Linked DNA regions of Homo sapiens. The protein of the gene in region 3 purifies or fractionates together with the protein of the main gene of each other region. This does not show direct contact. Each region holds a gene or a part of one and is shown on either strand. Other genes may lie near its edges. The genes, in order: DDX27, RPF2, OASL, CALML5, HP1BP3, ZC3HAV1 and ZNF326.

Evidence for each region.
Region 1: the proteins of OASL (region 3) and DDX27 purify together in Homo sapiens (affinity purification with mass spectrometry; 2 studies listed by BioGRID and IntAct, with this or other methods). This does not show direct contact.
Region 2: the proteins of OASL (region 3) and RPF2 purify together in Homo sapiens (affinity purification with mass spectrometry; 2 studies listed by BioGRID and IntAct, with this or other methods). This does not show direct contact.
Region 4: the proteins of OASL (region 3) and CALML5 purify together in Homo sapiens (affinity purification with mass spectrometry; one large-scale study listed by BioGRID and IntAct). This does not show direct contact.
Region 5: the proteins of OASL (region 3) and HP1BP3 purify together in Homo sapiens (affinity purification with mass spectrometry; one large-scale study listed by BioGRID and IntAct). This does not show direct contact.
Region 6: the proteins of OASL (region 3) and ZC3HAV1 purify together in Homo sapiens (affinity purification with mass spectrometry; 2 studies listed by BioGRID and IntAct, with this or other methods). This does not show direct contact.
Region 7: the proteins of OASL (region 3) and ZNF326 purify together in Homo sapiens (affinity purification with mass spectrometry; one large-scale study listed by BioGRID and IntAct). This does not show direct contact.

What each region holds. Positions count from the first base shown.
Region 1 is NC_000020.11:49,225,579-49,229,957, forward strand, and holds part of DDX27 (probable ATP-dependent RNA helicase DDX27), read left to right. Parts: intron 1-851; coding exon 852-957; intron 958-3,136; coding exon 3,137-3,310; intron 3,311-4,379. UniProt on the Homo sapiens protein: Probable ATP-dependent RNA helicase. Component of the nucleolar ribosomal RNA (rRNA) processing machinery that regulates 3' end formation of ribosomal 47S rRNA.
Region 2 is NC_000006.12:110,988,267-110,992,645, reverse strand, and holds part of RPF2 (ribosome production factor 2 homolog), read right to left. Parts: intron 3,619-4,379; coding exon 3,581-3,618; intron 900-3,580; coding exon 860-899; intron 1-859. UniProt on the Homo sapiens protein: Involved in ribosomal large subunit assembly. May regulate the localization of the 5S RNP/5S ribonucleoprotein particle to the nucleolus.
Region 3 is NC_000012.12:121,018,175-121,022,689, forward strand, and holds the end of OASL (2'-5'-oligoadenylate synthase-like protein), read right to left. Parts: intron 2,885-4,515; coding exon 2,387-2,884; 3' UTR 937-2,386; downstream 1-936.
Region 4 is NC_000010.11:5,497,888-5,501,306, forward strand, and holds CALML5 (calmodulin-like protein 5), read right to left. Parts: upstream 1,684-3,419; 5' UTR 1,552-1,683; coding exon 1,111-1,551; 3' UTR 810-1,110; downstream 1-809. UniProt on the Homo sapiens protein: Binds calcium. May be involved in terminal differentiation of keratinocytes.
Region 5 is NC_000001.11:20,770,308-20,773,807, reverse strand, and holds part of HP1BP3 (heterochromatin protein 1-binding protein 3), read left to right. Parts: intron 1-197; coding exon 198-357; intron 358-2,734; coding exon 2,735-2,878; intron 2,879-3,500. UniProt on the Homo sapiens protein: Component of heterochromatin that maintains heterochromatin integrity during G1/S progression and regulates the duration of G1 phase to critically influence cell proliferative capacity.
Region 6 is NC_000007.14:139,078,229-139,082,607, forward strand, and holds part of ZC3HAV1 (zinc finger CCCH-type antiviral protein 1), read right to left. Parts: intron 2,016-4,379; coding exon 1,242-2,015; coding exon of another isoform or gene 876-1,241; intron 426-875; coding exon 324-425; intron 1-323.
Region 7 is NC_000001.11:90,032,640-90,036,442, reverse strand, and holds the end of ZNF326 (DBIRD complex subunit ZNF326), read right to left. Parts: 3' UTR 910-3,803; downstream 1-909. UniProt on the Homo sapiens protein: Core component of the DBIRD complex, a multiprotein complex that acts at the interface between core mRNP particles and RNA polymerase II (RNAPII) and integrates transcript elongation with the regulation of alternative splicing: the DBIRD complex affects local transcript elongation rates and alternative splicing of a large set of exons embedded in (A + T)-rich DNA regions.

The DNA.
Region 1 (4,379 bases), on a different chromosome or scaffold from region 3:
CCCAGCAGCTGGGACTACAGGCACACGCTGCCACGCCCTGCTAATTTTTTGTATTTTTAGTAGAGATGGGGTTTCACCGTGTTAGCCAGGATGGTCTCGATCTCCTGACCTCGTGATCCGCCCGCCTCAGCCTCCCAAAGTGCTGGGACTACAGGCGTGAGCCACCGCGCCCGGCCGAGAACTCTCTTAAGCAATGAGTTCCATCGTGTCCCTCCTCTTCTTCTCTGAGTCCTTCAGTACTTCCCAGTCTCACTCTTCTTAGAAGCCTGAGTCCTTATATTGACCTACAAGGCTCTGCCCCTTCTGGCCCTCTCTGACGACACCTCCTGGCACTCGTTCTGCTCTGGCCACACTGGCCTCCTTGCTGGCCCTCAAATAGGTTAGGCCTCCTCTTCCTCAGGGCCCTTGCACTTTCTGTTCCCTCTGCCTGGAAAACTCTTCCAGAAATCTTTTGGGGTGCTCTCTAGCTTCCTTCAGGGTTCAACTCAGTATCCCTTGCTCAGTGAGACCTTCCCTGGCAGCCCTACCGTGAATAGCACTCCCCCTGCTGCCCGTCTGGCCGCTGCATTGTTTTCCGCAGCATCTCTCCATATGACATGTGTTTGTTTTTTGGTCTGTTTCTACCAGACTGTAAGATTCCTGAGGGCAGGGTTTTTATTTCTTTTATTTACTGCTGTGTCCTCAGTGTCTAGAGCACCACCTCACACATAGTAGGCGTTCAGTGAATGTTTGTGGAACGAATGATTGGTGGGGATTGGTGTGGTCCCCACTTGTCTGGAAACCTGCCCTGTTTGTGTTGTGCTGAGACTTCCCCCGCTCAACCCTGTCTGACCCAGTTCTTTTTTCCTCAGGCCATTACAGCCATGGGCTTCAAGCAGCCCACCCCGATCCAGAAGGCGTGCATACCTGTGGGTCTATTGGGGAAGGACATCTGTGCCTGTGCAGCCACTGGGACAGGTGAAAAGGATAGGGACCCAGGGTGGGCAGAAGGGTGTTACGGCCAGGGCTGGGCTCTAGGTTGACTTACCAAAGGCTGGTTTGCTAAATAAATATTCTTGGTTTTTTGAACTATTTCATTTTTATTTTTTATTTTGTAGAGATAGGGGTCTCACTTTGTTGTCCAGGCTGGTCTTGAATTCCTAGGTTCAGGTTCAAGCGATCGATTTTCCCATCTTGGCCTCCCAAAGTTCTGGGATTACAGGCATGAGCCACTGTGCCTGGCCATAAAATTTTTGTAACACAAAAAAGATATACTGGTGCAATTGAGAGAGTAAAGGACTTTTTTTTTTTTTTTTTTTTTTTGAGACGGAGTCTCGCTCTGTCGCCCAGGCTGGAGTGCAGTGGCGGGATCTCGGCTCACTGCAAGCTCCGCCTCCCGGGTTCACGCCATTCTCCTGCCTCAGCCTCCCAAGTAGCTGGGACTACAGGCGCCCGCCACTACGCCCGGCTAATTTTTTGTATTTTTAGTAGAGACGGGGTTTCACCGTTTTAGCCGGGATGGTCTTGATCTCCTGACCTCGTGATCCGCCCGCCTTGGCCTCCCAAAGTGCTGGGATTACAGGCGTGAGCCACCGCGCCCGGCCGAGAGTAAAGGACTTTTAAATTTTTAACCACTTTATTTTGAAGTATTTGTAGATCAGTGGCAAGTTGCAAAAATAGTGCATAGGGTCTCTCGAATCCTTCATCAATGGTGACATCCCACATAACTGTAGGACAAAATCAAAACCAGGAAATTGGCACTGATACAACAGTGTTTCCTAGACTGCAGAGCTTACTCAGTTTACTGAAGGATTAATTTTTTGTTTTGAGATGGAGTCTCACTCTGTCACCCAGGCTGGAGTGCGGTGGCGCAATCTCGGCTCACTGCAACCTCTGCCTCCTGTGTTCAGGTGATTCTCCTGCCTCAGCCTCCCCAGTAGCTGGGTTTACAGGTGCCCGCCACCACACCCGGCTGATTTTTGTATTTTTAGTAGAGAGAGGGTTTCACCATGTTGGCCAGGCTGGTCTCGAATTCCTGACCTCAAGTGATACACCTGCCTCAGCCTCTCAAGAGTGCTGGGATTTACAGGTGTGAGCCACCGTGCCTGGCATACTGAAGGATTAATTTTGTAAGATAAACAGTGCATGAGAGGATGTCCGGTCTAGTAGTGGGCCACAAGTTTCAAAGGGTCTGATGAAGGTCATTTTCATTTAATCCTCTTGGGGTATCCCTGATCTCTGTGACCATGGCCTCCTGGCCCTGCCATATCAGAGGAGGAAATTTTTTTTTTTTTTTTTTTTGAGACAGAGTCTCGCTCTGTTGCCCAGGCTGGAGTGCAGTGGCGCAATCTTGGCTCACTGCAACCTCCGCCTCCCGGGTTCAAGCGATTCTCCTGCCTCAGCCTCCTGAGTAGCTGGGATTACAGATACACGCCACCATGCCCGGCTAATTTTTGTATTTTTAGTAGAGACAGGGTTTTACTATCTTGGCCAGGCTGGTCTTGAACCCCTGACCTCATGATCCACCTGCCTCAGCCTCCCAAAGTGCTGGGATTACAGGCATGAGCCACTGTGCCTGGCTGTATTTTTTCTTTTTTTTTTTGAGACAGAGTTTTGCTGTTGTCACCCAGGCTAGAGTGCAGTGGTGCGTTCTCAGCTCACTGCAACCTCTGCCTTCAAGTGAATCTCCTTCCTCAGCCTCCTGAGTAGCTGGGATTACAGGTGCCCACCACCAAGCCTGGCTAATTTTTATATATTTAGTAGAGACAGGATTTCACCATATTGGCCAGGCTGGTCTCGAACTCCTGACCTCAGGTGATTCGCCTGCCTTGGCCTCACAAAGTGCTGGGATTACAGGCTCCCGCCACCATGCCCAGCTAAGTTTTTTGTATTTTTAGTAGAATTGGGGCTTCACTATGTTGGCCAGGCTGGTCTTGAACTCCTGACCTCAGGTGATCCGCCTGCCTCGGCGTCCCAAAGTGCTGGGATTACATATGTGAGCCTGACCATGTGATTTGAAAGCAGAAAAAATATTCTATGAAAAATAAGTTCCTTTATTTTCCCCAACCAGACGTAGTTTTTCTGTGCTCTGGTGAAAACCTAACCCTGGAGGGAGCTAAACTTCTTCTCATTGCTTCCTTGCTGTCCCTCCCTCCAGGTAAAACTGCCGCCTTTGCCCTGCCTGTTTTGGAGCGTCTGATTTATAAACCCCGCCAGGCTCCAGTCACCCGCGTGCTGGTGCTAGTGCCCACCCGAGAGCTGGGCATCCAGGTGCACTCTGTCACCAGACAGCTGGCCCAGTTCTGCAACATCACCACCTGCCTGGCTGTGGGTGAGTTTCTGGCCAAGGGCTGCCAGCCCCTGAGAGACTGTGGTGGGGTGGAGGATGGATGTGCCCCGCCATCTGTTGGTGTTGGTGACAGGTGCCAGGAGAGGCCTTTGTGTTGATTGAATCCACTTAAAAACTGGAAGACTTTTTTTTTTTTTTTTTTTTTTGAGACGGAGGAGTCTCGCTCTGTCGCCCAGGCTGGAGTGCAGTGGCGCAATCTTGGCTCACTGCAAGCTCCGCCTCCCGGGTTCACGCCATTCTCCTGCCTCAGCCTCCCCAGTAGCTGGGACTACCGCCACCACGCCTGGCTAATTTTTTGTATTTTTAGTAGAGACAGGTTTTCACCGTGTTAGCCAGGATAGTCTCGATCTCCTGACCTCGTGATCCGCCTGCCTTGGCCTCCCAAAGTGCTGGAATTACAGGCATGAGCCACCGCACCCAGCCGACATGTTTTCATAGTGCTTTAGGTGGGTGGGATTTGATTGAGACTTAACCAACCTTCACAAATGAAACCTGAAAACTATGAACATTTTTTTCGTGGTACTGAACAAATTTGGGGTATAATTTCTGCTCTGTGAGAATAATGAATCAAATATTACTTTGGGCAGCGTTTTTCCAATGAAGTTATATGATAGTGTTATCTAGCCTGCATTTTGCCCTCCTTGTGCTATTGGAAGTCAGAAGTGATCTTTGTCTCCCTGTAACAGACACCTCATCACTTTCCTCAGCTGCTTCTCTTAGTCCTTGAATGTTTCAGGCATTCTCTTTTTTTTTTTTTTTTGAGAGGAAGTCTCACTCTGTTGCCCAGGTGGGAATGCAATGGCATGATCTTGGCTCACTGCAACCTCCACCTCCTGGGTTCAAGTGATTCTCCCACTGCTTTCCAAGTAGCTGGAATTATAGGTGTGCACCACCATGCACAGCTAATTTATGTATTTTTAATAGAGATGGGGTTTCGCCATGTTGGGTAGGCTGGTCTCGAATTCCTGACCTGAGGTGATCCACCTGCCTTGGCCTCCCAAAGTGCTGGGATTGATTACAGGCATGAGCCACCTCGCCCAGCCCATGCATT
Region 2 (4,379 bases), on a different chromosome or scaffold from region 3:
AACTCTAGGAAAGCAACTGACATCTGTTAGCAATAATTCAGGTAGTGTTCCTTGTTTTAAAAGTATCCAATTGTGTGTGATGGTGTACACCTGTAGTCCCATCTACTTGGGAGACTGAGGCAGGAGGATTGCTTGAGCTCAGGAGTTTGAGACCAGCCTGGGCAACATACCAAGACCCAAGCTTCAAAAAAAAAAAAAAAGTAAAAACATCTGAAGGAAGAGTCATATTTTTAAAACTCAAACTTGCTTTATAAAAATAGATCTATAACAAACTTCCTTTTGAAAATTCATTATGTCCTTTAAATGCAACTCAAGTTTTAAATATTTTTTTTTTTGAGCCGGAGTTTCACCCTTGTTGCCCAGGCTGGAGTGCAATGGCGTGATCTCGGCTCACTGAAACCTCTGCCTCCCGGGGTCAAGTGACTATCCTGCCTCAGCCGCCTTAGTAGCTGGGATTACAGGCATGTGCCATCACGCCCGGCTAATTTTTTTTGTATTTTTAGTAGAGACGGGGTTTCTCCATGTTGGTCAGGCTGGTCTTGAACTCCCAATCTCAGGTGATCCACCTGCCTTGGCCTCCCAAAGTGCTAGGATTACAGGCGTGAGCCACCGCGCCCGGCCAAGTTTTAAAAATTTTATCAATATATTTGCAGGCAATGAAAAACACATTTCCCAGCCATAGTGAAATGAAAGCTCTATAGATATTTTTTAAAGTATTTCCTCTCCATTTTACACAAAATTCCCTCACACAGGATGACTTCTAATGTTTAAAAAAATCACAAATTTGGAGTACAAATGAATTAGTCTGAATAATTACTACTTATATGCTTTCTTAAATCATAAAGATTATTATACTTACCAGTGATGTCTGATCCTCAAAAGGTCTTGTAATATTTTTCCTAAGAATATCAAAAAAGTGACAATTTTAATAATCTAAATAAGTATATACAATTAATATATTAAGGTAATTTTATATTCAGATGATAAAACAATTGAAAGGATATTCATTCATTCAAATATTTATTCAGTGCCTGTTATATGCCAGGCTACCATTCTAGGAGCTAGTGATACTATACTACTACATTAAACAAGATGCTTGCTTTCATGGAGTTTATAGGCTCGTGGAAAATAAGTAGTCCTCTGTACATATGGATTCTGCATCCTTCTGCATCCATGGATTGATTTGACCAACCACGGATTGACAGTATTCAATAGACAAAGAAAGTGTGTTAAAAAAAAAAAAAAAAGCAGGGGGCGCCGAGCACAGTGGCTTACAACAGTGAAATATGATCGTGCCACTGCACTCCAGCCTGGGTAACAGTGAGACCCCGTCTCTAAAAAAAAAGTTAAGAAATAAAAAGAAAAAGGAACAATAAAAAGCAGGATAAACCAGAAAATACAGCATTATAACTATTTACATAGCATTTACATTATATTAGATATTATAAGTAATCGAGAGATGATTTAAAGTATATGCAACTTACTTTTATGGGAAGCATTTTTTAAAAAAAGGATACAGGAGGAAGTGTGTGGGTTATATGCAAATACTAGGCCATTTTATGTAAGAGACGAGCATACCCAGATTTTAATAAGGGGAGGTTTCTGGAACCCATCGCCCACAGATACTGAGGGATGACTGTAGCTTATTCCAGGGCTGTGGTAAGGAAAAAGACAAGATGAACCCAGATAATTTTGTGATGTTAGAAAGTAAGGAAGTGCTCAAAAACAGGAGGCATGTTGAAAGGTCATAGGAACCAACGTAAAAGAGTTCCCAGCTGGGAGCAGTGGCTCACGCCTGTAATCCCAGCACTTTGAGAGGCTGAAGCTGGTGGATCACCTGAGGTCAGGAGTCTGAGACCAGCCTGGCCAACATGGTGAAACCCTGTCTCTACTAAAAATACAAAAATTAGCTGGGCACCTGTAATCCCAGCTACTCAGGAGGCTGAGGCAGGAGAATCGCTTGAACCCAGGAGCCAGAGGTTGTGGTGAGCTGAGGTCGCACCACTGCACTCCAGGCTGGGTGAAAGAGTGAGACTCCGTCTCATACTAAAAAAACAAACAAAAGAAAAGGTGGGGGGGGGGGGGGTTCCCAATTGCCAAACAGAACAATTTAAGCAACAAAATTAAGAACACTGGATTATAATCCAGAAGAATATATGAGGAAAGCACAACATTTTTGTAGTGTTCTTGACAAACATGCATAACCTCAATCAATTCATGAGAAAATTTAAACCCAAATTGAGGGATAATTTACAAAATAACTGACAAGTACTTGTCAAAAATGTCAAGGTCATCAAAGACAATGAAAGACTAAGGAACTGTCACAAATTGGAGAAGACTAAGGAGGCATGAAAACTAAATGCAACATGGGATCCTGAAGAGAAAAAGAGTATTAAAAGGAAAACTAGGGCCGGGCACGGTGGCTCACGCCTGTAATCCCAGCACTTTGGGAGGCCGAGGTGGGCAGGTCACCTGAGGTCGGGAGTTCGAGACCAGCCTGACCAACATGGAGAAATCCCGTCTCTACTAAAAATACAAAATTAGCCGGGCGTGGTGGCGCATGCCCGTAATCCCAGTTACTCGGGAGGTTGAGGCAAGAGAATTGCTTGAACCCAGGAGGCAGGTGTTGCAGTGACCTTAGATCATGCCACTGCACTCCAGCCTGGGCAACAAGAGTGAAACTCCGTCTTAAAAAAAAAAGAAAAGAAAGAAAAAAGAAACTGGGCCGGGCGGGGTGGCTCACGCCTGTAATCCCATCACTTCGGGAGGCCAAGGCGCGCAGATCACCTAAAGTCAGAAGTTTAAGACCAGCCTGGCCAACATGGTGAAACCCTGTCTCTATTAAAAATACAAAAATGAGCTGGGCATGGAGGTGCATGCCTGTAATCCCAACTCAGGAGGCTGAGGCAGGAGAATCACTTGAACCAGGGAGTCAGAGGTTGCAGCGAGGCGAGATCATGCCACTGCACTCCAGCCTGGCAACAAAGCTAGACTCCGTCTCAAAAAAAAAAAAAAAAACCACACAAAAATTAGCCAGGCGTGGTGGCACGTGCCTATAATCCTAGCTACATGGGAGGCCAAGGCAGAAGAATTGCTTGAACCCAGAGTTAGAGGTTGTAGTGAGCAGAGATCATGCCACTGCACTCCAGCCGGGCGACAACAGGACTCCGTCTCAAAAGAAGGAAAAAAGAAAAACTGGTGCTAATCAAATATGTCTGTCATTTGATTAACATGAGTGAATCGGTGTTAATTTATTAGTTTTGATCATTGCATTACGGTTATGCAAGATGTAACATTAGGGGAAGCCAGGTGAAGGGTATATGGGAATTCTGCATTATTTTTGCACTTTTCTGTAAATCTGTATTTCAAAATAAAATATATATGCTATGGTTACAACTATGCAAGGACATTCAATACAAATGAAAAAAACAGACCAAAAGAAAGAAATTAAAATATTAATAACTGTAAGGAATTTTAATATCTTTTTAAAAAGTTTTTGTTTTCCAAATCTTCCATAAAGTGGTTACTTTTATAATGAAACAAAATCATTTAAAATACAGTAAAAGAAATCATGACTTACTTTTTATATAGTACACCGTATGGTTTTTTCAGTGCATACTGTAAAACAAAATTTATAGCTTTCAAAACAAAACACATTCTGAAAAGCAGAAATAAAAATAAAGCATCATAACAGTCACTCTCCAAGATTGCTCTGGGGCCTCAATCTTATTCTGAGGGCTTCTGCCTGGCTCCCTTTTCATCACTTACAGTAACTTGAAATGTAAGCTTAATATTCTTGGACTAGACTTTCCTATTTAAAAGTTTCTATGCCCTGTCAATAGTCTATCCAACTTAAACAATTTCCTTCATTTCTTTAAACTCGACTTAGTCCAGTCTCTCTCTAGGGAAACAATTCCAGGTGCAGTGGCTCACGCCTGTAATCCCAACACTTTGGGAGGACAAGGCAGATCACTCAAGCCCAGGAGTTCGAGACCAGCCTGGGCAACATGGCAAAACCCTGTCTCTACAAAAAACTGCAAAAATTAGCCAGGCATAGTGGTGCATGCCTGCAGTCCCAGCTACTTGGGAGGCTAAGGCGGGAGGATCACCCGAGCTCAGGAATTCGAGGCTGTGGTGAACCGTGATTGCACCACTGCACTCCAGCTCTGGTGATAGAGTGAGACCCTGTCTCAGAAAAAAAAAAAAAAAAAGTAGTAGACAAAAACAGAAAAAATAAATTCTATCACGAAAGGCTGACAGATTGAAATAATGTTGCGTGGAGATCAGAAAACTTAGAAACAGTAATAATGATGACAATTAGAATACTAGCCAGAGGTTAAACACAGCTCTTTAAAAAATGCCTATTATTCAATGTTCTT
Region 3 (4,515 bases):
TCGAACCCCAAGAGCGTGGCCAACAGACAACATGAGGCAGTGTGTGTGCAGGTGGGCTGAGGCTTAAAATGGCGTCAGCACCAAATGAGGACGGGGCAGGGGTTTTGTAGTCTCCTGTAAACAGGAAGTTTCTCAGTCTGTTGTAACCGCTACATTGTACCCGGATGACGTCTCTCTCGGTCTTCAGGGGGTAGGTGTCTTCTGGCCCGCTCTCTTCCCGCTTCTGCTATCTTGCTGACACATGCTGCTGGCGCGAGTGGCCTTGCGCCTTGGGACCGGGCCCAAGGAGGGAGGGGAGGGAGGGGTCATTCATTCTCTTAAGCTTTCAGGCCCCACGGAGAATCTTTCAATTACATAATGGGTCCTGAGCCCTCATGAACTGGATCAATGCCTTCATAAAAGAGACCCCAGAGGCCAGGCATGGTGGCTCACAACTGTAATCCCAGCACTGTGGGAGGCCAAGACAGGTGGATCACAAGGTCAGGAGTTCGAGACTAGCCTGGCCAAGATGGTGAAACCCCGTCTCTACTAAAAATAAAAAAAAAATTAGCTGGGCACAGTGGTAGGTGCCTGTAGTCCCAGCTACTCGGGAGGCTGAGGCAGGAGAATCGCTTGAACCTCGGAGGCAGAGGTTGCAGGGAGCTGAGATCATGCCAATGCACTCTAGCCTGGGTGACAGAGCGAGACTCCATCTCAAAAAAAAAAAAAAAAAAAAAAAGAAGCGATCCTAGAGACACCTTTGCCTCTTCTACCATGTGAAGACTTAGTGAGAAGCTGCCATCTGTGAATCAGGAAGAGGTCCTCACCAGACACCAAATCTGCCAGTGTCTTGACTTGGACTTCCCAGCCTCCAGAGCTGTAAGAAATAAATGGTTATTGTTCATGAGCCATCCAGTGTATGGTATTTTGTTTTAGCAGCCCAGATGGACTAAGACATTGCATTTTTCATTCTTTTTTTTATTTTAAACAAGAATTTTCCCACCACCTACAATGTGGGCTGTGCTGGGCATTATGAAGGACACAAAGATGGGGACTGGAACAGCCTGTCTACCTCCTGGAAAGGAGGCACTTTTTCTGTCCCTGAAGGCAAACAGAGGTGGGAGATACACAGATTATGATTGCTAAATTGACCAGAGGCTGTTGATAACCAATTGCAGTGTGCATTTTCTATGCTATGGTAGGAGAGTAGCCCACCAGAAAACTAGGCAAAACAGGGGGGCAAAAGGAAACTTTTTATTGCTTGGAGTAAACCTGATCACATGACGTCCTTTGATAATAAAGATGCTATTACTTTCCTACAGTTTCCTGACTATTATGTACTGTTTGTGTATGGGTTTTAGGAGTTGAGGTGATTTTTTTTTACACTGCATCATCCTCAATCTCCCATTCTTTGTCTCTTTTTGCCTCAGTTTCCCCAGTCCTCATTTCTTAGAGTTGAGAAGCTCAAATGATCAAGCAATAACCATTAGGACAGCATTAGGCCCTGTGGAAATAAACAGCCCCCAAATGAGAACTAACAAAGGCGATTTATTCCCAACTTGCTATAGCAAAGGAACCAGCCACCCATCTCTCGCTTTTGACAGAGATTTAAAGACAGGCAGGAAAATGGGAAGGCTTCAGGGATGCCGTGATTGAGGCTGTTGGTATGGGGAAGCTGGAAGTGCACTCACCAGAAGTGGGGCTAACCATGTGATTGGTCTGGGGAGCTTATTTGGGTTTCTTGGGTTGGTCATAAATAGGAAGCAGGATGGGAGTAGGGTGGGGAGTTAGAGATGCTGCCAGTTATCGCCCAAGTCCTGATGGTTTGGGGTTGATTGCTGCAGAAGGCTGTGGGTCCGAATTCTGTTGCTGTGCGTCATGTGACCACACTATTTATTTGTATATTTAGTCCTCACACCCCTCCTCATCCTCCCCCTGGCAGGGCTGGGATAATCCTTTTTTTAAACGGATTTACTTATTTTTATGTTTTAGTTTTTAGACACAGGGTCTTGCTCTGTGGCCTGGGCAGGAGTGTAGCGGTGTGATCACAGCTCACTGCAGCTTCAGCCTCCTGGGCTCAAGTGATTCTTCTGCCTCAGCTTCTTGAGTGCCTGAGACTACAAATGTGCACAACCACACCCAGTGAATTATTTTTTTATTTTGTAGAGACGGGGTCTCCCTGTGATACCCAGGCTGGTCTTGAACTCCTCGGCTCAAGCGCTCCTCCCACCTCGGCCTCCCAAAGTTCTGGGATTACAGGTGTGAGCTACCACGTCTGGCCTGGGATAACTCATTGTAAAACTGGTGAAGACCTGGGACCTTCCCAGTAGACAATGGGACAGAGTGATTGACAGGATGAGTTCTGGAGTACATGGCAGAAATGTACAGAGAAGTCTCCCAGAGAAAACTAACTGGCTGGAAACAGAGCCTCTCCTTTCTTCTTCGAGAGGATGAGAGTGTCACTGTCTTGGATGCCATAGATCCCCAGACCCAACCAGTCCTGCAGGACTTGGCCTTGGAATTCCAGCTGCTGCTGCTTTTTAGGAAGCCCCTGCTGGTCTTCAATCTGCTGCTTCAGACCCAGGATGAAGCTGTTGGGGTTGATGGCATAGGCGTAGCTCCCACCATCAGGATTCTTCACGAAGACCTGGATCTCGGAGGGGATGGTCTCCAGCAGATAGATGTGAGTGTGGGAGAAGATCCCATATTTGGCTAAGGAGCACCTGCTGCTGAGAAGCTGCCTCTCACTGCCAGGAACCTGGAAGGACAGACGCTGCAGGCCAGAGTAGCCCCTGGTCCTCCGGATTTTCTCTTTAACCTTCCTTATGGGCTCATAAGGGTTCACGATGAGGTTGAAATCTGGGTAACCCCTCTGCTCCACTGTCAAGTGGATGTCTCGTGCCCTCTGGAAGGGAGAGGGAGAAGGAGAGGTGTTAAGTCCACACTTCTTTGTCTGATGTGCAAATGTTCCCTTCATCTGTCCTTATCTTTACAATAGTAGCAGCAGCAGCGGCAGCAGCAAATGTTTAGGGAGTGGTAAGCACTTTCCAGGCTGTATGCTGAGCACCTTCCATACCCTTAATGCATTTTATTCTCAGAGCATCTCTATTAGTTGGTTGGTTCTACTGTTACCCCCATGTTATTGATGAGGAAACTGAGCAGGGTTAGGTAATTTACTGAACACCAATCACATAGGTAGTAAGGAGCAGGGCAGATATGTGAAGTGAGGTTGGTCAGACTCCAGAGTCTGTGTTCTCACCACCTCCAGAGGCTACACTCCAGGGCCTGAGAGCCCCAGGTGGCTGGAGAGCACCTGGAAAATGCTGGCGAGGGTCAGGCCTCTAGCTGATTCTTTCCAGAAGAAATATAAGCCTTGGCTGGGTGCAGTGGCTCACGCCTGTATTCCCAGCACTTTGGGAGGCCAAGGCGGGCAGATCACTTGAGGTCAGGAGTTTGAGACCAGCCTGGCCAACATGGCAAAACCTATCTCTACCAAAAAATGCAAAAATTAGCCGGGTGTGGTGGCGTATGCCTGTAGTCCCAGCTACTCGGAAGGCTGAAGTGGGAGAATCTCTTGAACACAGGAGGTGGAGGTTGCAGTGAGCTGAGATCGCACCACTGCACTCCAGCCTGGGCAACAAAGGGAGACTCTGTCTCAAAAGGAAAACAAAAAAAGAAAAAGAAAAAGAAATATAAGCCTGGCATTGCCAAGTTTTCTGACTAGCCAAGATAAAAAATATTTGCACAATGTTGTGTGTGTTTGTTTTGTTTTTTGAGACAGGGCCTTGCCCTGTCACCTCAGGCTGCAGTGCAGTGGTGCAATCTTAACTCACTGCGCCTTGACCTCCCAAGCTGAAGCGATCCTCCCGCCTCAGTTTCCTGAGTAGCTGGGACCACAGGTGCGTGCCACCACATCTGGCTAAGTTTTGTTCTTTTTTTTTTTTTTTTTTTTCAGATGGAATCTCACTCTGTTGCCAGGCTAGAGTGCAGTGGCACGATCTTGGCTCACTGCAACCTCCGCCTCCCAGGTTCAAGCGATTCTCCTGCCTCAGCCTCCCTAGTAGCTGGGACTACAGGCACATGCCACCACACCCAGCTAATTTTTGTATTTTTAGTAGAGATGAGGTTTTACCATGTTGGCCAGGATGGTTTCGATCTCTTGACCTCGTGATCTGCCCACCTCGGCCTCCCAAAGTGCTGGGATTACAGATGTGAGCCACCGCACCTGGCCAAGTTTTGTATTTTTAGTAGAGACGGGGTTTCACCATGTTGCCTAGGCTGGTCTTGAACTGTTGGGCTCAAGGGATCCACCCGCCTCAGCCCCTCAAAGTGCTGTGATTACAGGCGTGCGCCACTGCCCCCAGCCTACAATGGCTTTTATATTCAGGAAAAATCCAGAGGCGTATATTTTCCAGCCCATGGGTGGGCCTCCTCATTTGGCCAGCGGGTCCCCCCGTTTATACTCTATGTACCTTACTGGAGCCTCTGATTCTGCTTCTGCCTTCTGCTCCAAGCAGTTCAGTCTCCTGTCCTGTA
Region 4 (3,419 bases), on a different chromosome or scaffold from region 3:
CACAGACACACAGACACACAGATAGGCACACAGACACACACAAACACATACACAGACACACACAGACACACACAGATAAACACACACAGACACATAGACACAGAGACACACACACACAGATAGGCACACAGACACACACAAACACATACACAGACACACACACAGACACAGACACACACAGATAAACACACACAGACACATAGACACAGAGACACACACACACAGATACACACACAAAGCCACACACAGACACAGACACACAGATAAGACACACACACAAATGGACACACACAGACACATAGACACAGAGACACACTCAGACACACACACAGATACACACATACACATGCAGATGCACACAAGGACACACAGACACACAAACATACAGAGACTTACACACAGATGCACACATACAGAGACACGCATACAGACACACAGACACACACACAGATGCACACACAGACGTACACGTATATTATTTGCAGCCGAAGAGAGGCAGGCTGCGTGCAGAGGCTGGCAGCTGGGCTCCGTCTGTCCATGCGAGGCGCCCGCTCCTGTTTGTGCGGGACACGTGCCCAGGTCCTCACCAGCAGCTCAGGCAGAACCTGGAGCCACAGACACCGCCCAGCACCATCCTCACACATCCTCTGCCCACCTGCCCTCTGCTCCGCGTCAGGGGAGGCAGGAGCTGCCCCTGGGGCCTGCTCCAGGCAGTTCTGCCACCGCAGGTGAGAGGGGTGGGCTGGAAGGAACCCTGGAAGCAGGTGGGGGCCCTCGGAGGCAGCCGCCCCACAAACACCAAGCACACATGGAACTCGGCAGTCCTTTATTTAGATCAATGCGGGGCTGAGGGGCCCTCATTCCACTGCAGGGCAAAGGGGGACCAGGCCCAAGGAGGCCTCCTTCTGCCCAAGGTCTGGAGGCAGAGAGGGGCTCGCAGGCGGCCCGAGGGCGCCGCATCCAGGCCCCGGAGCGCAAAGCCTTCCTCCCAGGGGGAGGCAGTTTCCCATCCACCGACCAGGTTTCCCCGGAGAGTCCCAGCACAAAAGCAGCAGCGGGCGGTGGCCCTGAAGGCTCAGAGCGCAGCCAGGGGGACACAGGCGGGGAGCCTCACTCCTGGGCGAGCATCCTCGCGAACTCCTCGTAGTTCACCCGCCCGTCCTGGTCCACGTCGGCCTCGCGGATCATGGCGTCCAGCTCCTCCTGCGGCAGCGGCTGCCCCAGCCCCGCCATGGCCCGCCTGAGCTCGTCCACGGTGATGTGGCCGTCGCCATCCTGGTCGAAGGCGCGGAAGGCGACCTGCAGGTCCTCCAGGCCGGCCCTGGCCTTCTTCGCCGCCGTCAGGAACTCCTGGAAGCTGATTTCGCCGTCGCCGTCGCTGTCAACCTCGGAGATGAGTTTCCTTAGCTGGGCCTCCGAGAGGTTCTTGCCCGTGGCCTTCAGCGCCGCGCCCAGCTCCTGGGCATTGATGGTGCCGTTTCCATCCGTGTCAACCGCGGAGAAAGCCTTTTTGTACTGGGCCTCCTCCTCAGGAGTCAGCTCACCGGCCATGCCTGCGTCTCCTGCACCTCGCGGAGCCTCCGAGCTGCTGCCCACCGGCCCTCAACCTGCTGCTCTCAGAGCTCGTGGTCCAGAGTGCAGGCAGCCGCAGGGATCCGGGCAGCGTCTGTCCCAGACAGTTCTGCCTTGGCATGGGAACCCCCTCCTTTTCTGCAATCGGAACAAAGGGAGGAGGGAGGCTCCCCACCCTCCAAATGCCCTGGGGTGAGAGCCTCCTCCCAGGGAGGGCCAGATCAGCTGCAGACAGGAAATGCAGGAATGGGAGTTGGGAGAGCTGTCAGGTGCCAGGTGGGAACTGCCATGGGGTCGGGGTATCGGATGGCTAGCCTGCCAACCCCGCCTGGCCTTGATAGCAACCACCTCCCTCCAGGAACATTCTGCCCAAGGGATAGTTTCCCCTGCAGCTGATTCTCGGAGATCCTGACCAAGCCAAGGGGTTCAAGACAGCTTCTGCAACTTCACAAAGACTGAGACTGGAGGGGGAGGTGGCTTGAAGAGGGCTCCCTCAAGGGCACAGCAGGCCCCAGTGTTTGGTGTTTCCGTACCCCTCTCTCCAGTGCTACTGCCTAGCTCTTGCCCTGAGGCTGGGGCTGGTGGAAGGGAAGTGGGTGGTAGTGTTGATTCTGCCAGGGCACAACTGTGGGTATCATGAGATTCCCAGGCCAGGGTCTAGAGACAGAGGATGGGGCTCACTGCCTATAACTTCAAGGAAGCAAGGGACCAGGGCTGCCTTCAGAGCCATAGCTGGTGCTGAGATGGTGTTTATCAAGTGAACATGTGACGTGCAGTTTCAGAGGAGAGGGAAAGACTTTTTGTCTCCCCAGAATACTCCCTTCTAGCTCAGGGATTCCTACAATTCAATTCCATCGCCAAGTCCAAGGTTCCCTGTGCAGACACCCTGGGAGCTCAGTGGCAGGCGTTCCATTCACAGGGCGTCAAACAGTTACAGCTGGAGTTTTGCTGCAGCGAGACACGGGGGACCTCAGTGCCCAGCATACCCCAAAGGTGCAGGCAGAGGTGCAGGAGGATGCAGAACAGGTGGCTGCCATCAAACTTGGCCCTCCTTGTGGTTTTACTAAGCATCAGCCCTAAGCACAGAGACCCATCTGGGAGCCTACTGGGGTCCTCAATCTGATCTGTTCTCTGGAAGGAAACCCCCAGGGCCACTTGCCTTGACCAACTTTTAGAGCAACAGCTAAGCTTTCGGGGGACCATCCCCAAGTCCTTCCACTGATGTGATCTACAGTTGTGAGGGGACATTTGCCTTGGAGTCCCCAAAATGCCTTTCCCAAGCAAGTCCCCTCTGATCTCCATAGATTCCCATTCTTCTCCCCAGCCCCTGCCCGTACACAGGGAACAAACTCCTTTATTCCCCTGGGAAAGTTTATACATTCCACCTCCCTCCTGTTCAGCCCATCAAATAGACCAAGTGCCCTCTCCTTCCCTAAAGTGCAGCCAGACAAACACCTCCCAGCCCCTTGGTGCTGCACACATTCTCCAAGGGAAGCCGGAGGCTGGGGTGCCCAACCACGCACTCCATGACCCACAGCTCAGTCCCCCAGGACCACACAAGGGGCAAACCAGGCAGAGCAGTGAGAGGAGGGAAGATGCCCCAGCCAGCCCTAGTGTGGCAGCTGCTCCCTGAGCTGCATGTGAGGGGCCAGAGGGAGGTGCAAAGGGCTCGGAAGCACCACAGCAGAGGGAGAGGCTGAGGTCTGCAGAGAGGGAGCTCCGTGGACCAGGTACAAAAGGGAAGGTCATGGTCAGCAGGGAGAGGGAAGGAAGGGGGTCACCCCACCGGAGTTCAGGGGGACCCAGCATAGACAGAGAGATGCAGAGAGCAGTGTCCCAGTTGTCTA
Region 5 (3,500 bases), on a different chromosome or scaffold from region 3:
ACCTTTTTAATTCATTTATAGTACCCAGTTTTTAAAGAAGATTTATTTTGTAAAATTTTGCTTATGGTACATGTCATCTTAGCCTGTAAATAAATTAAAGCATTAATTTTTATCCCTCCCTGGTCTTTTCCTCCTTCTGACTTTATACGTCTTTCTAGAGAGCTTATCTTCTATAATAACAATTCTTTGTTTTAAAGTGAGAAAGATCAGTCTAAAGAAAAGGAGAAGAAAGTGAAAAAAACAATTCCTTCCTGGGCTACCCTTTCTGCCAGCCAGCTAGCCAGGGCCCAGAAACAAACACCGATGGCTTCTTCCCCACGTCCCAAGATGGATGCAATCTTAACTGAGGCCATTAAGGCAAGTTTTTATTTCAAGCAATTCATCTTAGATTTATTATGTTCATTTTTTTCTTATTTGAAAATGGCATATATCTGTCTAGACATCATAAATCTTGTTCTGCTTCCTAAAGGAGTTTTAAAGAGAGGAAAGTCATTATAAGTTCATGTTTTTCTAATATAATCACATTTGGTGAACACTGTTAATTTTTTTAAAAAAATTATATTTAATATAGCAAATATTTTAACTTTAGAATTTTTAAATGCAGTTTATCGATTAAGTACAGTTTTTATTTGAAGGCTGAAAATGTTAATTCATTGAACAAACATTTAAGGACTACCTTCCTCTGTTGGGCGCCCCTGCTAGTGGTGAATTAACTAAGGCTAGCAAAGTCCTTGCCCTTATAAATCTAATTGTGACTCAGTAACTGAAAAATATTGAGAATTTTTGTTTAAAAAATATCTCTAGGTTCATTTCTAAAGCTAAGTGATCTTGGTAGTGGTTATCTTTCACACCTGAACCCTGTTAATAAACACTGCTTTATTACCTAGACATTCCAAAATGCTTACAAAAATTATCCTCCTTACATAGATTTATGATTTCATTGACTTTCATTAGATGTAGTTTTCCTATTTTAATTTTTAAAGGTTATCTTCTAATTTGACATTGCCTTTATTGTATAAGTCTTTTCATTTAATTTTGCCTTGTTTAGTTCATATGATCAGATGATAAGAGGAGTTAGAACAGACCCATCTTTCAGGGACCCTGTTGTTAGGATCTGAGGCAGGACTGGGGAGACAGGGATACAGATGATTTTAACCAGAAAAGGGGGGATGTGTACGAAAAGGAGCAGCCTGGTTGTCATTCTCAGAATATGAGAAGATAGCACTAACACATAAACTGGAAAAAGGGTTTGCCTTCAGACTTCTCCCTTTACTCCTTCAAGACTTCTTATGCTCTCACCTCATTAAGAAAACTTTATTGGTCTAGATTACCTCACTGTAGTGAAATCTCTGTTCTTTGTATAGCCTTTCTTCAAGGATTTCACTTGATGACCACTCAGCCTGGGTTTGAAGGAGCAGCATCATAGTGAGGATGGAAAAAGGGCTGAAACTTTAAAATAGTGAAATAAAAAATTAAAACAATATCAATTTGGCTTAAAGAATGGTTTGAATATAATTGTGCATATTTATGGAGATGATTGATTTTATATAGATAATGTGTATTCCATGCAATATGACAAATTATTGTTTCAGACCATGGATACCATTTTCTGTATTGAACAGGAATCATGATGTCTACTACCATCTCACTGTCGGATTGGTGGAGCAAAAGATTATTTGTTTCAGCATTAGTGTTCTTTTCTGCTTGATTTTCTTTGCTCTGTGTTTTCTTTTAAGATCAGGAGTAAACCTCAGTAGGTCATTAATAGTTCAGAGACATAGACTTGAATTACATGACCCATATTAATACAACTTGTTTCGTGTTGTGCAATCTTTTCTGGACCATCTACCTGTGAGTTATTTTTCTTTGTTGTCAAAATGTATAAAAACATTCAACGAAGTTCTTATCCAATGAGAATGAATAAGTGCTACATTGATTTAATAGACACTGTGGCAGTACAAAATTGATGGACTAGCTCATTAGATAAATGACAGATGCTACTTTTGTGTGTTTCAAAATTTAAAGTATTTGATTTCAAGTCAGTGACCAGTTGGAAAACAAAATTTTAAGCATTTGAAAAAAATTAAGTATTTGCTGCCTTTGTGACATAATGAGCTACTTAATTCTTCCAGGTGCATTAGTCAAATGGAGTATAAGTAAAATAGGATGGAAATGGAAGAGGGCACATTAAATTCAAATAGAACACCTTCACTATTACCCAAAACTCTCCTTCAGCACTTTGCCATCTGTAAACCCATTTTTATGCCACTTATTCAGATTATCTTTGATTCTTCTTTCTGCTGACATTCATACAGAGCCTTCAGGGAAATGTCCTGGCATGCTCATTCCTTAAGCTCGTGCCTTAAAATGGGACAGATCTGTGATCCTGTAAGTGATAGGTTTGTTCTGCTTTTCTCATTTTGATGCCAAAGATTCATCTTCTAAATACAGAATGGAATTAAAATGGAAAGAGGTTCTTCATTATACATAGAATGTTGTTCGTGTTCAGTATGGTCTCTTAGGCTGTTTTGAACAATTTAAAATTGTAGTAGAAATATTTAGTAATTCTGTTACTTCTCTGTAGTCATTATGAACTGAAGTCTTCTGAAGTTCATTCTTCCCTACCGTTTTTGTCATCTATCATCAAATTCACTTCCAAAATAATTTATTTTGAAAATATATGTCAGGCTCTATCTAATAAAAAAAAACAACTAGTTTAATAAATCTTTTCTAGGCATGCTTCCAGAAGAGTGGTGCATCAGTGGTTGCTATTCGAAAATACATCATCCATAAGTATCCTTCTCTGGAGCTGGAGAGAAGGGGTTATCTCCTTAAACAAGCACTGAAAAGAGAATTAAATAGAGGAGTCATCAAACAGGTATTACACAATTGTTAGTAGTAAGATCATTTCATTGTGTATTAGCTTTAAGTCTACAGTTAGTAACATTTAGGCTTTTTGTGCCTTTTTTGTTAAAAATAAGTTTCATGATGATGAAATTCCTTAAGTTTAACCTAGTTGAATTATCTGAGGCTAGGTTTCGAAAATGCTGGTGCCATTAAGATAGTGTAACTTTTTTCTAGCTTACTTTGCTCTTAATTGGATATTTTTTGGGGGGCTGCTTGTGCTTGAAATCATGTAGCACTGAACATGAAAAAGAGGTAAGGAATCCTACTACTGAAACAGCAAAAATGAGGCTAGGGATGGTGGCCTACACCTGTAGTCCCAGCACCTTGGGAGGCTTAGTTGGGAGGATCACTTGAGCCCAGGAGTTCGAGACCAGCCTGGGCAACATAGCAAGACCCCTTCTCTACAAAAAATACAAAATCAGCAGGGTTTGGTGACACATGCCTCTAGTCCCAGGTACTTGGAAGGCAGAGGCAGGAGGACCGCTTGAGCCTGGGAGGTTGAGGCTATTGTGAGTTACGATCTCACCACTCCAGCCTCGGTGAGAGTGAGACCCTGTCTGAAAACAAAAAGGAATAACAGAAATAATAATTGC
Region 6 (4,379 bases), on a different chromosome or scaffold from region 3:
ACTCCGTCTCAAAACAAACAAACAAAAAAGGCAAACAAACACACACAAAAAGAACAAGTGTTGGTGAGGATGTGGAGAAATTTGAACGCTTGTGCATTGCTGGTGGGAAAGAAAAATGGTATAGCCACTATGAATAATAGTTCCTCAAAAAAAAAAATTAAACATAGAAGTACTATATGATCCCCCAACTCCACTTCTGGGTATATATCCAAAAGAATTGAAAGCAGGGTTTTCAGAAGGCATTTGCACACCCATGTTCATAGCAGTGTTATTTACAATGGCCAAAAGGTGGAAGCTTACAGAAAAGTCCTTAGGTTACTCACCATTAAGCGGACAACCCTTACACAGATGGTCAAGACAAATTTCCTCTGAGTCATGATCATCCACCCTAGAAGATGTGGTACTTGTGACATCAGATAAAGAATCTATGAAACAAAAAAGGATGCATGTATGCTGATCTTAATGTTTAAACCAAAAATCAAAGCACTTGGTCTCACAATGGGAAAGAATATCTGAAATGGGGGCCATGTTCAAGAAAATTCCTATGATTTATGTTTTGCCCATGAGCATCTAGACAGCCCCTCCATAAAACAAAAATGTGGACCTCAGAGTCCTGTGAAAGCTATGTTTATTTCTTAAATCATAGTTGAAATATTCCTATTGTCAATAAATGTGGCAGTTTATTCCCTGTGGTTCTACTGGTTGGCCCTTCCCTGTCTTCACTAGTCAATCTCCTCACCAGACCACCCCATAACCAAAACCCTCTAACTCTCTACCCTTTAAGAACTGGGGAACATCCAAGGAAAAACCACCAGCCATAGCCACTCTGCTGCAGACTCAAGACACAGAGGCCCCTTTGTCCTTCAGTGACTTACACTGAGCAGAGCCTGTTGTCTTCCTTGTGAGCTCGCTGGCAGAGGAAACAGGAACCTGGGTGCAGTTCTGCCCTTGGGCCCCCCAGACTGCAGCTCTGTTGCTTGAGGAAAGGGCAGCAGGTGACTGAGGCAGAGTGCTGACTTGTGCAGGGGCAGTGGATTCCCCAGGTGTGGTGGGGACCAGGTTCCTCAGACTCTGACTTCCAGTACGTAACATATCTTTTTCTGCCTTGACTGCCATTGTTAAGCCAAAACCAGTGGCACCAGTTTTTTCTACATCAGTAGTTTTATCCACTACTTGACTAGAGCCATTTGGTATATCATGAACAAATGTACTAGCCCAAAGTGTCTTCCCTTTGTATTTACCGTTAACAAGTGCTACTCTTGGGTCAGCATCATCTGCGATTCTGCCAGTGGCCTGGACATCTCGGGAAGCAGGTCCAGCATCCTGAATCCTAGGTGATGATATTTCTCTGTGACCGCTGCTAGTGCTTTTGTAATTTAAGGATCTGGTAGAAGTTATATCTGTGGCCACTCCATCAGCATTATTATTAAAAAGAGGGCCAGGCTGGATGTCCTGAGTTCCACTTTTGCCATTGATGATCCTGTAGTCTGAGGAAAGCAAGCCTGTGCCCTTTCTGGTGGTCACAGCTTCAGGTGTTTGCAGAGAGCCAAGAGAAGAGCGGGCGGCAGGTAGCGTGGGAGAAAACACAGTCTTTCTCCTGGCGCCTTGGTCATTCGTCCAGGATGTGAGGCTCTTCCAGTTGGGGGCTGATGTTGAATTGGAAGCAAGGTAAGTGCTGCCTGGATTTCCATGCAAGAGGTCCTCTTGACTGCCGTTCTCTAAAAACCTCTGGCTTGTCCCGGCCTGACTTGTTCCTCCAAGATCAGTAGCCTTGGACGAGCCTGAGGGAGGCCGAGCGCGATCCTGACTCCCCAGATACGTGAACTTGCGGGTGAGATCGTCCACAGGCGCGTCCTCCAGGGAAGCCCTGTGGCTGATCTGATCTGGACTAGGTGTGCAGGACCTCTCAGCAGACGCTGAAGCAGACGCAAGAAATTCTTGGCTGCCCTGAAAGAACCGATCTCTACTCTTGCTTCTAGCCCTATATGCCATGTTTCTACGATGTGAAGAAGGAGCTAAGGGGAAAAAAAGCCAAAATGAAACAAAATAATGAACATTGGAGTTAATGTGACTGAGTTCCTACCACCCTTCCTCCTCTTCACTTTTGTAGCTTTGCTATCCAAGTGCTATCAAATTACTTGGCGTAATCTGATGTGTAAAAATCTTGAAGATGGGTGGTTTGACACTGACGGTTTTTTTTGTTTTTGTTTTTGTTTTAAGAGATGGAGTGTTGCTCTGTTGCCCAGGCTGGAATGCAGTGGCCCGACCACAGCTCACTGCAAGCTCGAACTCCTGGGCTCCAGCGATCCTCCCACCTGAGCCTCCTGAGTAGCTGAGACTACAGGTGCTCACCAACTGTGTCAGCTGATGAAAGAATCTTGACATTCTGCCTGCACGGCAGAGCACGTCATTCCATGGCCTAGGATGACAGTGAGGATCAGCTCTAGGATGACAGTCCCCGGCTCTCTTCTGGGACTCAAAGTAGCCCCCAAACCCCAAAACTTTTAGGTGGGGCTGTCCACTATCTCCTGGTCCTGAGTCAACGTTCATCACTGGGGTCAATGGAGAGATAGATTAGGGCAAATCAGAGAAGATTTTCCAGAAAGCATTCGATTTTGCCCATATCGTGATACGGGTGTACCTGGCTATTGACAGATTCACAATGCTCAAAGAAACCAACAGAAAATGAAACCACAGTCTAAAGGCCTGACTTTGTTTAAGCTGGAAATTTTTCCAGTTTTCTTCATCTCACTCCATAAGGCCAAAGTATATCAGAAGTCAACATCGACAAAGCAGTGTGGCCTGCAGGGAATTGGCCTTCCTCTAGAAACTTGATAGGTCACACCCTTCTGGAAGCAGGGAGGAAGGAAGGAGTTAGGGTGTGTTTGTGAGCGCGTGTGGAGTGTGTGTGGCGTGCATGCACGTGATGTTTATGTGGGGTGTGTTTGTGTGCCGGGGGTACATGTGGAAGATGTGCATGTCTGTGTTTGAGGCACATGTGCACGTGTGGTGTGTGAATGTGAGGTGTGCATGTGTGCTCGTGTGTGTGTGTGAATTGTGCTTTTTTGTGTGGGGAAGGGGTAGAAGAGACATTTTTTTTCTCTTCCAAACCCAGGGGGCAGTAGTTATGTAGTAAAAGCAAACACCCTCCTCCTGTCAAGAAAAGGCTTAACTCAGGAGATTAACTGGAAGTGAAAATATATACAGATCTTTCTCATTCACAATAAGTTTACATTGAGAAGCTACCACCAAAACCCATCCCTCCAGACATTCCTCTGTTCAGAGGGAACTGTAGTGAGAGAGAAAAAGCATTAGATATGGGATCAGAACATGCACTCTGCTACTTTCTAGTGATGTGAGGCCTTGAAAATGTTACCTTTTATTTCTTCATTACATTATCCTTCATTCTTCTAAAAATGAGCTGAGGCTGCTTGCAATAAACATTGCTTACTATTTCTGAGCCTCAGTTTCTTTACCCTCTTAAGTAAGGCTAAAAAATGACATATCTACCTTTCTTTGTGGTTTCACTGTGAGGAACAATGATGAAATATTTATTTGGGATGAAAGTCCCTTGTAAATGATAAACCATTTCCCAAATATAAGGAGGTTTAATTGTTCATTAATTTGCACAGAATCCTAGAATCATGTATTCTATCTGCTTCATAAAATTCATCTTTCCTACATCCACTTCATAAAGACATTAAAAATGAATGCCATTATATAATATGAAAATGCTTCAGAAATAGCAGCACTTGGCTGGGCATGGTGGCTTACGCCTGTAATCCCAGCACTTTGGGAGGCTAAGGTGGGTGGATCACTTGAGGTCAGGAGTTCAAGACCAGCCTGGCCAACATGATGAAAACCCGTCTCTACTAAAAATACAAAAATTAGCTGGGAGTGGTGGCAGGCACCTGTAATCCCAGCTACTTGGGAGACTGAAGCAGAAGAATCACTTGAACCCAGGAGGCGGCCGGCCATTGCAGTGAGCCGAGGTCGCACCACTGAACTCCAGCCTGGGTGACAGAGTGAGACTCTGTCTCAAAACAGGAAAGAAAAAAAAAAGTAATAGCACTTCATACTCCTTAGGATGGCTATTATTAAAAAAAAAAATCAGAAAACACAAAATGATAGAGGATGTGAGAAATTTGAACCCATGTGCACTGCTGGCAGAAATGAAAAATGGCACAGCTGCTACAAAAAATGGTATGATCGTTCCTCCAAAAATTAAACATAGAATTACCATATGATCCAGCAATTCTACTTCTGATTATATACCCCCGAGGAACTGAAAACAGGGTCTCAAAGTGGTATCTGTACACCATGTTTACAGCAGCATTATTCACAATAGCCAAACTGGAAATGGCCCAAATATCCATCGA
Region 7 (3,803 bases), on a different chromosome or scaffold from region 3:
TGTTCGTAGTAAGAAATGTAAGTCAAATATTCCTCATGTAAAACAAATTTCTTGGTTATTTACTTTGCATATGAGTTTCTGAATAAACTTAAGTGGTATATACTTCTAGTAATACACTAATATATGCTAACATCCATTCTCCCCTTTTTCTCTAATAGAAACCCTGCTTTTTTGCCTAGGAACATGGCCATATAGAATAAACACAATTCCCATCCTGGAAGCTAGTTGTATTCATGTGGCTGCTTTAAGCAATGAGATTCATGTAGAAAAGTAGGTACAATTTCTGGGAACAGTCCTTTTCTCCCTCTCCATTGGCTGGAATATACACAGGATGACTGAACATAAGGTTTGTTTGTTTGCTTGTTTGTTTGCTTTGAGATGGTGTCTCCCTCTATCGCCCAGTCTGGAGTGCAGTGGCATGATCTCGGCTCACTGCAAGCTCTGCCTCCCGGGTTCACACCATTCTACCTCAGCCTCCCGAGTAGCTGGGACTACAGGCGCCCGCCACCACGCCCAGCTAATTTTTTGTATTTTTAGTAGAGACGGGGTTTCACCGTGTTAGCCAGAATGGTCTCGATGTCCTGATCTCATGATCTGCCCGCCTTGGCCTCCCAAAGTGCTGGGATTACAGGCATGAGCCACCACGCCCGGCCAAAGATAAGGTTTTAAAGACAGCAAAGTAACAAGATAGAGGGAGCCTCAGTCTCTGACACCTTGAAGGGTGACACCAGCCCTGCCTTGTCTATCTGAACTTATATATATGAGAAAGACACTTCAATATTCCTGAAGCTGGTATTTTTAACTTTCTCTCGCCACCACTACTAACTCTAAGTAACAATTGGAATGGTAATTTATGAATTATCTGAAGATAACTGGCATACAGACAATATTTTTCAGACAGGAACACAGTGTTTATTCAGGCATTTTATTTCCTCCATTAAAATGTATCATTTTCCTCATAAGGATTTTGCATTTTTCCCATTGTTTATTCTTAGACAGTATACAGTTCCAAGTTTTGCTGCAAATGGGATTTTCAAATTACATTTCCAATTGGCCAATGCTATATTCTATATACAGATTTTCTATATAGTACAGATTTTCATGGTGAACTATTAAACAAAACTACCTTTTGTCATTTCTAATAGTTTTTCAACTGTTTCTCTTGGATGTTTGTCTCTACAATCACACTGCTCAAAATAAGGACTATGTTTTCTCTTCCTAATACTTCTATTTCTTAGGGTTAAATGATTGTTGCATAGGCAACAGTCATTATTGTCTTAATCCTGACTTGAATGCAGATGTTTGATGAAGCTTTCTGGAAGACCTTCCTAGTCCTTAGCCAAGTTACAAAGGCTTTATTCTATTCTCAGCCTGAAAAATTTAAATCTGGAATGTGTTCAATCTTAGGAAATGTTTTTCGAGCATCTATCAAGCTTATGGTATTTTTTTTTAAGTTAAAGTAATAAATTTCCTAAAGGATTGAGTTACATAATCGTCATGTTGCAGTTTTCAGATAAACCCTACTCTACCATGACACATTATTTTGGGATATTTAATTGGTCATGTTTTTTCAACATGACCAGTTTCAACAAATTACATTTGTTCGTAAGTGAGACTGGTCTATAGCTATCTTTGATGAACAATTTTCTGGAATAAGGATTATGCTAGCCTCAGAGACCAAATTGAGATGTTTCAACATTTTGTATAATCTAGAACTGCTTAAATAAAATAAAGATTCTCTTTCATAAGTTTTTATTTCCTTTTAAATGCAAGCATTACAAGGACAGTGTTTTCTTTTGTCTGATTTTTAAAAATTGATTTATTGCTATCCACTTGCTAATTTTTTGTTTCATTGCATTGTGATGACAGGATGGACCCTGAATTCCTACCTATCAACAAACAAAAAAATATTGTGGTTTTTGCTTCATGGTCATTTTTTCATGGCATTTGAAAACAAATATTCTATAGCTATTAAAATTTGTGCACTATATAATTCAAAATGTTTCCTCTATTTTGAACTCTTTATCTGACAATTTCTAAGCGCTGTGTTCAAATACGTAGCTATGATTATAAATTTGACAATTTCTTGTTTACCAAGTTTTTCTTTACATAATTTGATACCATGCCGTGCAGGTTGTGTTTTATGAGTTAATTTCTGAAATCCTTGCATGTTCTAAAATTGGTAGAATGTCCTTGCTGTGCCCTTACTCTTGACAGTTTCACTCAAGATAGAAGTCTAAATTCAAAACAGTTCTCCCTCAGAACTTCAAAAATAGCAGTATGTTGTAGCACTCCAACGAACAGATGACAAGTCTGAGACCAATGTGATTCTTTTCCCCTTATAGGTACACTGTTTCTCTTTAGACATTTTGAGATTTTTCTAAGCTTGGGATTACACATATTTTGTCAGTATTCATCCTGCATGACTTTTTCATTGTTTTTGCTCAGCACTGGAGACTTCTAATATGAATCTTTCATCAGAAGATTTTTTTTTTTTTCCTATTCTTCACTTCTTTTTTCACTTTCTGGAACTCCTCTATATATTTATACTGTAACATACATACATACATTCAAAAATATTTATTGCATAGTATTTACCTGGCACTGTGATATATGCAGGGTATTCAATGGTGAATTCTCTATACATATGGCTCTTAATCTCATGAAGTTTAATTTTTAAACAGATGGTGTTCTGGGTTTTCTATGTCTTTAAGAGATACATCTATGTCTTTTACTGTAACTTCCATCTTTTTTATCTTTTCTTGTAAGCTCTGGAAGTATCTTCAGCTCAAAATTCTAGCTCAGTAATTTGATTCTCAGCCATGTTTATTCAACTAATCAGCCTAAAACAGAGTTTATTTTCACAACTGTTTATTTCCAAGATACTTCTTTATAGCAACTTGCATTTTTAAAATTAGTACAATAACCTCTAAAATATTTGAAGATTATGACATATAATATGATGAGGATTACATATGAAACTATTATAAGTAGTAGTAATTATTATTCCATATAATACTAATTATACTTGGTCATTTTTTCCCCCTGAATTGTTTCCCCAGGAATTCTTTCTGCTTGTTAAGTTTGCTGTGTATTTTTCATGTTGCTCTTTTCCTTAAATATTTGCTGTTTCTCATTTGTCTACTTGCAAATGAGAGCCTAGGAGTCAACAAACTTTTTATATAAAGGGTAGGCTTTAAGGCCCAAACACAGTATCTGTCATATATTGTTTTGGTGTTCTACAACCCTTTAAAAATGTAAAATCTACTAAGAAATAGGTAGTGGAAGGCCTGTAGATAGCAGTTTTCCAACCAATAAATTTCTCAGTATCATTATCTGGAGTTTATTTTCTGGGCTTGAGTGAAAAATTCCCTGAAGATTGCGATTACAGGAAACCTAGCATTTTAATTGTGTGAGGAAGGAGAAAGGAACAGTCAGAAGGAAAATTGGGAAATAGACAGCTGGCAGATTTTTCTTTGTGTGCTTGTTTTCTAAGTATGAGGAATAAAGCTCCTTGTGGTAATCACAATATACCTAGGGCATTGCCACACTTCGATGGCCCCTATTTGTATGCTCTGCATTATATGCTCTGCACATATACTCTGTGAGTCTCACCTTATTTGGCAAACATCAAATTGTGTTACAGCTTTAGCTTAGAGGAATTCTGTGGACCAGCAGCTCTGAGTCAGAGACCAGAATAACTATCTAGTCCTTCAAAAATCTGGCTTAGCACACTACAGACACCCCATCTCAGAGCTGTCTCTACAACTGGAGGTAATTCTTTAATTATCATCGGCATGTGG